Linked DNA regions of Homo sapiens. The protein of the gene in region 1 interacts with the protein of each later gene in a pairwise test. Each region holds a gene or a part of one and is shown in the gene's direction. Other genes may lie near its edges. The genes, in order: PCNX2, ORMDL1 and FMR1.

Region 1 (3,659 bases):
GTCCAGGACCCTTCCCTAGCTTGTGGTGGTTCACCGGCCATCTTAGGCATCCCCCGGCCTCGAGAAGCACCACTGAGCTCTGGCTTGGTCTTCACATCATGTTCTCCCTGTACTTCTCTGTGTCCACACGTCCCCTTTTTATAAGGACACTGGTCATCATGGACTCAGGGCCCATCCTACTCCAGTATGACCTCATCTTAACTAATGACATTTGCAACGACCCTGTGTCAAAGTAAGGCCCCACCCTGAGGTCCTGGGGGTTAGGGCTTCAACAGAGGAGTCTGGGGAGGGAACATGATTCAGCCCGGAACACCCACGCGCATCCCATGAGCACCCCTCCCCCGCAGGCCCCCATCTGGTCTGCTCTCTCTCTCACGCCTTCTCTCCCTTCTCTCAGCCCTCTCTTATGAGCCCACATCCCCAGCACACGGTCTCTTGCTGTCCCTCAACAGTGTCAAGCATTCTCCTTTCCAGGGCCCCCTCAGCTGCTGCCTCCTCTGTCCCCAGTGTCCCTCTCCCAGGCTTGCAGCTCCTTCGCTTACTCACACAGCCTCCCATCAAATCCCAGCTTATCCAAGAGACCCTGGCCAGCCTTCCATACAGCACTGCTGTCCCCCTGCCCCACTTTCTCCTCCCCTCCAATCCCTGCCTGATGCATGTGCCTTGTCTGTGGTCAGAATTTCCCATGAGCTGCTCACTGCCCGGCACCTAGGACAGTGCAGCCCACGGTGGACGCTCAGGTGGGCAGCCCTAACTTCTGCAGAGCCTGTGACAGGAGCACATGTGAAGACCACACCACCCTCTTCCCCACTCTCCCCACATCCTGCCAGGTGAGGGGCTGCCTGCATGCACTGGAGCCTCCCCATTCACATGCCCGTCTGGGGGTGCACGTGCCTGCAAGTAGGCCCAAGGTCCGCCCTGGGAGACGACCCTGGGGAAGAGGCCTGTGCAGGCCCCAGTTTGGGGCAGGGAGTTCTGGAGTCCTGGGAACCCAGCACACGGCCAAGCAGGAGTGGGTGGGAGCTGGTTGACGTGCTCCTGTCTCCACAGCTTCCTGGCCCTGTGGGGACAGAGACGGCTGCAGGGGCCACCAAGGGAAACCTCTGAGGTGCTGGGCTGGGTGGTAAGCATGATCTGGGCTCAGCAGACAAAGGTTGGACGAATGAGTGGATGGTTACCCCTCCTGGCCTCAGCCACTTACACTACAGCTTCCCTAGAGGGCGAGGGTGCAAAGCCCTTGGGTCTCAGAGTTGCAGCTGTAGGCAGGTTCTGTCACAGCCAAGAGCAGTGGAGCCAAGAGCTGCCGATCTTGTTGGCTCTCCTGAAATGTACCATCATGACCTTGGTGCCCCAATCCCCCGGCCAGAATCCCTCCAAGATGTGATTCAACTATCCAGAAGGCTCTCTAGCACTGACTGCGACCGGGAGCACAGAGCTTTCATTCCCCTCAAGACACTGCACCTGAGACCCAGTGTGCAGGTAGCCCAGGTTCCAAGGAGAGCAAGCCCAAGAAGGAGGCTACCACAACGGGAGGGGCGGCTCTGCCTGGCCCTGCCCGGGACACTTTGCGGAAACCACCTACCTGCCATTCCCAGCAGGCCATCATTCCCTTCAGGGATGTGAGGATAACTGGATTTGATTTCAGTCTCTGGCCTCCTTCTCACCCTCCTTCTAGTTAAGTAAAACAACCATGCCCGTCCGAGTTGAGACACACAGCTCCCAGAAAGGAAGCCAGAGACCTGCTTGGCCAGTGCAGGGGCGTTAGAGGCCAGTCTCCAGCTATGGGGAGAACATTCCCTGATCCCAGATCTTTGGACTTGACCCTGGAAGTATGGAGGAATCACCTTCCTATTTTCCTAACCTTTAGCTTGCCCTCCAGTCTGCAGTGGCAGCCCCTTGGGCCCATCTACAGGCGCTTGCCTATGGGTCTCAGCCTCTAGTCAAGATATTGATTAATTTTTTGAAATGCTTCTAATGGCCAAGTTTAAGAAACACTGTACCCACCCCGAACTTTCTGAAGCTCACTGGATTTCTAATCAGCGTTTTGGCATCTGGTCAGTTTTGCAGGTTTGTCCTGTGTATCCTTTACTTACATGTTAGTGTACTGGGTGCTGAGCTCATAGAAGTGATACAGGGGTCCTTTGCTGCAGAAAGGGCACATAGTGGAGAGGACCGTGCATCAGACAGTGACAACACAGTGTGCTGAGTGCCATTGGAGAGGTGGTTGGGGGCCTCTCAGAGTGGAGGACCTGCCTCTCTGGGAAGGGCATGACAGAGACCCTTAGCCAAGTAGCAAAGAGTGAGCAGTTTTTTTTTTTTTGAGACGGAGTCTCACTCTTTCACCCAGGCCGGACGGCAGTGGCGCTATCTCGGCTCACTGCAAGCTCCGCCTCCTGGGTTCACGCCATTCTCCTGCCTCAGCCTCCTGAGTAGCTGGGACTACAGGTGCCCGCCACCACGCCTGGCTAATTCTTTGTATTTTTAGTAGAGATGGGGTTTCACCGTGTTAGCCAGGATGGTCTCGATCTCCTGACCTCGTGATCTGCCTGCCTCGGCCTCCCAAAGTGCTGGGATTACAGGCGTGAGCCACCGTGCCCGGCCGAGTGAGCAGTTTTGAAGGGCGAATTTGAAACAAATTCTAACAAGGGTCTTGTTTTACTCACCAAGTCACCAAGACTCAACTCACATAACTGGGGACCCAACTGCCCCCACCCTTCGTTGGTCCTTGCCTCAATTCTGGTCAGGTATCCCAATCCTGAGCCCTTGCTAGAGGCTGAGCGGACTGGGGTCCCTCCTGCCTGAGACCTCACAGACAGAACTCCTCTCCCCAGGCCAGCCACGCTGTGCATCTGCTGCTGCTGGTGCACACAGCACTTTGCACCCAGCTGCCAGGCGCTCACTACGCCAGCCTCATCTAGGTCCTGACAACCTGCAAACGTCTTGCTGGGGTAAAAAGCATATGTCACAGCTGGAAGGGGAGTTGGCCTAGCAGTGGAGGCTGGTGACCTACTTACTGGTGAGCAGTTAGGAATTCATAACTAATCCGAATCCCAGATTGGAGAGGGAGGCTGTGTTCTCATATTACTAAGGAGCTACACCACGATTGTTCAGATAACATCAAAGACAAAGGAATTAAGTGCCACGATAATAAACCAAGGAGGGTGATTTATATGTAAGGTATTTCCATTCAGGTTCTAAAAAGGTTTTCCCTAGAAACATTCATAACTTGGTAATAGAGTTATTTGCAAAATAAGTTAAATTGTAAAATAATGATCTTGAGTAGCACAAATGCATTTAGCATGGTTTGCTTCCTTAGTGCTGTTCCATTTGCAAAATTAATTAAAAAAAAAAAAGAGCAATGAGAAAACCTGAAGCAATGAAATCGGGTGGCGGGGGAGTCCTTGTCTTGCACAGACTACAGCAGGCCACTTCCCTTTGACACACAGTGGGTTATTTGTCCCCTTGTTCCTGGAATTCTCTAGGAAGTTCCCCACCAAGTATGGGTGGTCTTCTATTGAGCATCACAATCACTGACTTGTGGATAAATGTGGAGTATTTTTGGACAGTGATCAGCTTTACGATAGAAATCACAAACACACGTCCGGCCTTGCCAGACACTGAATAAACTAACAAATCGCCCTCCTTATTTTTCATTCTGA
Region 2 (2,445 bases), on another chromosome or scaffold:
CTGATCATAAAATAATGGGGTTCTTTTTCCTTAATTTATAGCCCTTTGAGGAAATTTTGAATTGATTTAGTCCCATATAATATTAACCTCAAAGAAAAGTGTCAGTGTAGTCTGATAAAAATAAATGTAAGCTACATGGGAAGCTGAGGCAGGAAGATGGTTTGAGCCTAGGAGTTAAGAGGCTGCAGTGAGCTGTAGTCACACTGCTGTACTCCAGTCTGGGCAACAGAGCAAGACCCGATTTATTAAATAAATAAGTGAATGAATGCATGCATGCATGTAATAACAAAAATATTGGTTATTCAGATGGCCCTGAATTTGGATTTTGGCTCAACCCCTTTGAAGCTCTGTGACTTTTGGCCGTTTTCTTCAAAAGCTCAGTTTTCTCATCTGTAAAACATTGAGGATTGCATTATAATACATGTAAAATGCCTGACATTCAGAAGTTTTAATCACAGCTATCACACAAAAAGCCAACTGAGATGTACCTGTATACAGTGTCCATATTTCTCAAAATGTATTTTTGACCAACAGGTATGATTTCAAATATTCTGATTAAATTGCTTACTTAACTGAAGAAATAGCATTAAAGCCATCTATATAGCATTAGGACTTTTCAGTGCTTTCACATTTTCTTATTTGATTATTTGTCAGGTAGGTGTGACATGGAATGTTATTCCAGAATTTTTTTTTTTTTTGAGACAAGAGTCTTGCTCTGCTGCCCAGGCCGGAGTGCAGTGGCATAATCTTGGCTCACTGCAACCTCCGCCTCCCAGGTTCAAGCGATTCTCCTGCCTCAGCCTCCCCAGTAGCTGGGACTACAGGCGTGCACCACCGTGCCCAGCTACTTTTTGTATTTTTAGTAGAGATGGGGTTTCACCATGTTGACCAGGCTGGTCTTGAACTTCTCACCTCAGGTGATCCGCCTGCCTTGGCCTCCCAAAGTGCTGGGATTACAGGGTGAGCCACCATATTCCAGATTTTTAAGTAAAGAAACAGACTCAAATGCATTACCTTGTTGAAGATCTTGCACCTAGTTGGAGTTCAGAGCTCAGGTTAAACCCTAAACTACTATCTTGTAATACAGGTCTCTTTCCAATATAGCTGTTGGCAAATAAATGTTGTCACACTGAGTCCCACCTGGGTTTTGCATACCATCAGAGGATTGCCTAAGTTTTTGAAAGAGTCAAGTAATTTTCATATAATCTACACACAAAATTAGTTTTAATTAAAAGACAAAAAGGGGACATATGCTAGGTTATAGTCAAAAGAACCCATTATAAGATTTATTATTTCTAACCTATCAGATTATAGATTCAACCTGTAATGATGGTGGGAAATGAAATGAGTTTGCTAAATGCAAGTGATGTCCTATTTTGTTCAGTAAAGGAAGTATAAATTTAGTCTTCAAATATATGAAAACAGGAAGAAAGAATTTCAGAATTGAGGAATATGGTTTACACTAGAGAAAGAATTTTCTGACTGTAGTTTGCAAAATAGGTGGAAGATTGTAGAATTTCTCAATCTAGATGGTTTTAAAAATGTATAAAATTCTCTTGTGATGTTTTTTGTCATACTTGGAAGTAGCTCCTCTCTTCTAACCATGTTACACAAGATATTTATTTTCCCTTATGAGAAACTAATGTCAGTAAAGGCTATTAGAATACTTTCCTTGCGTACTGCAAAGACCTAAATAGAAACTAACTTCTTAATTATGAACAAATAAGATATGATGTTTTATTCTTTACATCTTATCTGTATTATTCTGTTAGTAATCAGATGATGTGTCTGCACCTTGATATGATATACCTGTAGGTAAAACTAAACATTCTGGACTTGGTGATTTATGATTTTAAAGGTGCTTTTTAGGCTTGGGGCTTGTTAAAACAAATTCTCAGTTGGATATCCAAAAACATACATGCATTTGATTATTAAAAAGCAGCTGGAATGGTACAACAGTGTCTTTCAGGTTACCGGTTAAACTGGTTATAGAGCTGCTCAACTACAGTATGAAAATGAGAACATCAAAAGGGCAACCAAATATTTATTTCCTTCAAAGATAGGAATTGTACTAATGCACTAAAACCCCATTTTTTGGAGCTTTACAGTACAGGTTCTTAACCTGTGAGTCACAAAACTTTTTGAGAATAAGATGAATGCTTTGAATCCATATCTTTTTCAGAAACATACATGGAAATACAGAACTACACCTGTAATTACAGAGGGCATATGAACCCTAGTTTGATAAGCCTTGCTTTAAAGGATGCAGTGTGTTCTATTAAATGTATTTAATACAATTGCAGAAATGGAAAATGTGGACCTCCATTAAACAAATTTTTTAGTTCCTAATGAGATAAACTTGGGACCAAACCGATTCCTCTTGTTTTAGTGCTCAAAAATAGTTTCATTTTTAGGTATTTATGCTTTAGTGGCCTTTTTTTCTAC
Region 3 (3,659 bases), on another chromosome or scaffold:
GTCCATAGAGAGAAGTTCAAACTTTCCTTGTGATTCAGCCTTTTAAAATTTTCAGAGTACATTATTGAAATGTGTATGGGCTTGATAAAACTTAATGCTTGTCAATGTACCTATTTTTTTGTCTCACAGATTATTCAGTGCATTTTTATCCTGATGTTTTTGTTTGTATTTTGTGTGTACTCTATTTACTTGGTTAGCAGAAATGATTTACTTTTTACTTTTGTACCCTTGGTATTTCATTTTGATTTTTTTTTTAAGAATTTGATCGGCCAGGCGCGATGGCTCATGCCTGTAGTCCCGACACTTTGGGAGGCCAAGGCAGGCAGATCGCCTGAGCCCAGGAATTCGAGACCAGCCTGGGCAATGTGGCGAAACCCCGTCTCTACAGAAAGTACAAAAATTTAGCTGGGTATGATGGCATGCACGTGTTGTCCCAGCTATCCAGGAGGCTGAGGTGGGAGGAACACCTAGGGCCTGGGGAGGTCGAGGCTACAGCGAGCCATTATCATGCCACTGCACTCCAGCCTGGATAACAGAATAAAAAGACCCTGTCTCAAAAAAAAAAAAAAAAAAAGAGGCGGAGGCGGGCGGATCACGAGGTCAGGAGATCGAGACCATCCCAGCTAAAACAGTGAAACCCTGTCTCTACTAAAAAAACAAAACATTAGCCGGGCGTAGTGGCGGGTGCCTGTAGTCCCAGCTACTTGGGAGGCTGAGGCAGGAGAATGGCGTGAACCCGGGAGGTGGAGCTTGCAGTGAGCCGAGATCCCGCCACTGCACTCCAGCCTGGGCGACAGAGCGAGACTCCGTCTCAAAAAAAAAAAAAAAAAAACAAAAAAGAAAAAAAAAAAAGAAAAAATTTTGATCAGGATAAAGCCTTTCATAAATGAATTAGAGCATCTTATACTACTCATTTTGTTTATACATCTCATGGTAAAGCTTGTATAATTTTGAATTATACATTTTGTGATTTTGCTGATACTGAATACTAGTCTTTATAATAATCTGATACGTTTAAAAGGTTGCTATTGATCTATTCGTATTCACAGTAGATGTGTAAAGTAGTATATCAACTACTTTTGTTTTCATATATTGATTTATATTTACAGCAAACATTTGTATACCTGCTGTTCACCAGATCCTGTGCTAGGGAATTAGTCGTTATTTGCATTTTTCAGATTAATCTATCATTACTTTTATAGGATCATTGTTGCAATTTCTTTTTCAGGGTATGGTACCATTTGTTTTTGTGGGAACAAAGGACAGCATCGCTAATGCCACTGTTCTTTTGGATTATCACCTGAACTATTTAAAGGTGAGAACAGAAAGAACTTTAACTTCTAATCCTTTTGTACTAAAATATACAAACTTTATAGTAGATCTTTCAGCAGTTAGGACTCATTCTAGCCTGTGCAAAACACTGTATGACTTGTCAAAGGTAATAGAGAAAATACGTTGTTTGGCTTATAATTTTTTTAAAAATGGAAGTCTTTATAAATTTAAGTACCAATATACCAGTTTTCAATAAAATTTTATACTTCCCTTTATTCTTCTCTTAAACCCTTACACTCAGTTTAGGCAATCCTGTACATAGCCTGTTAATCCATTTGATCCTTTCTAGCATTTTGGTTTTTTCCAGACAAAAATCTGTGTCTATAACTCTTGCCTTTATTGTTCCTTTTATGTCATTTATCAAGGAAATCTAAGCATTTCATGAAGTTCTTTGTTTAAATGTTTACCCTATTTTTCTCTTTACTGTTATTCAAAATACAAACTATTTGTGTCTTCTCATAAATGTTCAGTTTAGTTAGTGTGATGCGGTTATGCCTCCTTAAAATTTCAAACTGGAAGATAGGAACGAGGAGGCTACAAGGTGTAGTGGAGCAAGCACTGGATGGGCAATGCAGCAATTTACTTATAAGACTTCAGCAAATGAACTAGCTGTGTGACTTTAGGCAAGTCACTTCCCTACACTAGATGCTTCTTGAAATTCCTTTTGGCCAAAATGTTCTATACTTTAATGAAATGGAAACTGATCTACTTCATTTTCATAATGTTTTATTTGTATCCATACATATCAAAATTATAATGTAGCTGGTATTAAATGTTTTTAAAAAGCATTTCAACTCTATTTATGGCATTAAGAATTTTTTTGCTGATTTCTTGAAAGAAATAAAAAGTACATGATTTCTGCTTGTGTGTAAATAAGAATGAAAGGAAGAAAAAGTGTAATACTGGGCATGCCATTCATTCTTATGGTGGCCAGTTAATTAAAAGTGGAAAGGTTTCATCCAGCAAGGTTTACATGGGTAGGATACCTCTTTGATTTTTTTTTAAGTATGTTTATGTGTAATCTCTCTGTGTGTGTGTCTCTCTCGTAATTAGCTTAAATCATCATGAAGGCCTGGAGAGTTAGGATTGCATTGTATCAAATCCCTTGTTCTTTTGACTAATGTTCTTTCTTAGATCCTTTGATTTATTCTCAAGAATATCTTCTTTGGTTATCAGCAGCTGCCCTGTTGCCATTCTTTCCATCACCAGAACTTCCCTCGTTTGGGCCTGGCATCTCTCACCAAAAGGTGACTGCTTTGCCCCAGTGGGATAACCTGGACTACTCTTCTGTTTTGCAAGATATTCCTATTCCATGAGCTATTACTATACCTTTGGAGGAAGTCACTCACTCAGCTGCAGTCTCTCCTTTGCTCAAATTCTATGTAAAACAGATTCTGGTGTAACTATGTAAATTGCTAATGATGGCAGAGCACAGATGAAACGGACCAAATCCTTACCTGACCTTTCTTTTCCAGAAGCTGCCACAACCAAGATTTTAGAAACTTAGCTTTACAGGAGCTTCTCCAATGACTGTTCATGTAGACAGTCTCTATGATAACCTCTGCTTCACTGAGACGCCTACTACTACTATAGTTATGAATCTGATTCCCCGTAGCCAGTAAATGAGATGTTTATGAGTGGATTGGAAGGACAGTGGTTAGAAATGAGGTTTCATCTGGTTTTAACAGAACCCAACATACTGGAAGTGCTTTTTGTAAGGGTCTGTCATTGGACCCCAGGTGTATATTTCTATCAACTAAATGTATACTGTTTCTCGTACTTGTTGTAGCAGAGTTGTAGTCTTTAGGAAGTTTTCAAGGCATGATGTAAGACCTAGCTGTCTGGTCAGCTATTAAATAGTTTTGTTTTCCCCTCATGAGGAATAGTCAGCATTTTCAGTTGATGAAAAAATCATTGTTCCTTAACCATAGTATATGTTCTTTTAAAACAAAAGATGGCCCAAACTCAATGCTTTGTAAATTAAGATATTAACTGGCAAATCTATTTTAATCAAGATTATTTACAATGTGTGATTTTTAAGGTTAGCTGGTTATACCTTGAATGTCATTTATCTATATTCATACATTTTAGCATGTTTTATTTAATATCCTATCATGAAGAAGTCCCCAAAATAGCATATCTGTGCCTTAGCAGTAGAATAATTGGATAATAGTGCCAAATTAGACAACTTTAAATTTTATTCAGTATAATTTTACTGCTGAGTGTTTTTGTTATATCTCTAATTCTTGACATCAATAATCTGTTATCTGTAGTAATTTTCTTTTTAAGGAGATCATTCAATTTCCTGATAATTCTGTGTAACAGTG

Evidence for each region.
Region 2: the proteins of PCNX2 (region 1) and ORMDL1 interact in binary tests that used the Homo sapiens proteins (3 or more experiments, as listed by UniProt).
Region 3: the proteins of PCNX2 (region 1) and FMR1 interact in a two-hybrid assay, tested with the Homo sapiens proteins (one large-scale study listed by IntAct).

The regions. Positions count from the first base shown.
Region 1 is NC_000001.11:232,988,115-232,991,773, reverse strand, and holds part of PCNX2 (pecanex-like protein 2), read left to right. Parts: intron 1-3,659. UniProt on the Homo sapiens protein: May play a role in tumorigenesis of colorectal carcinomas with high microsatellite instability (MSI-H).
Region 2 is NC_000002.12:189,771,976-189,774,420, reverse strand, and holds part of ORMDL1 (ORM1-like protein 1), read left to right. Parts: intron 1-306; coding exon of another isoform or gene 307-316; exon of another isoform or gene 317-572; intron 573-2,445. UniProt on the Homo sapiens protein: Plays an essential role in the homeostatic regulation of sphingolipid de novo biosynthesis by modulating the activity of the serine palmitoyltransferase (SPT) in response to ceramide levels.
Region 3 is NC_000023.11:147,939,348-147,943,006, forward strand, and holds part of FMR1 (fragile X messenger ribonucleoprotein 1), read left to right. Parts: intron 1-1,228; coding exon 1,229-1,315; intron 1,316-3,659.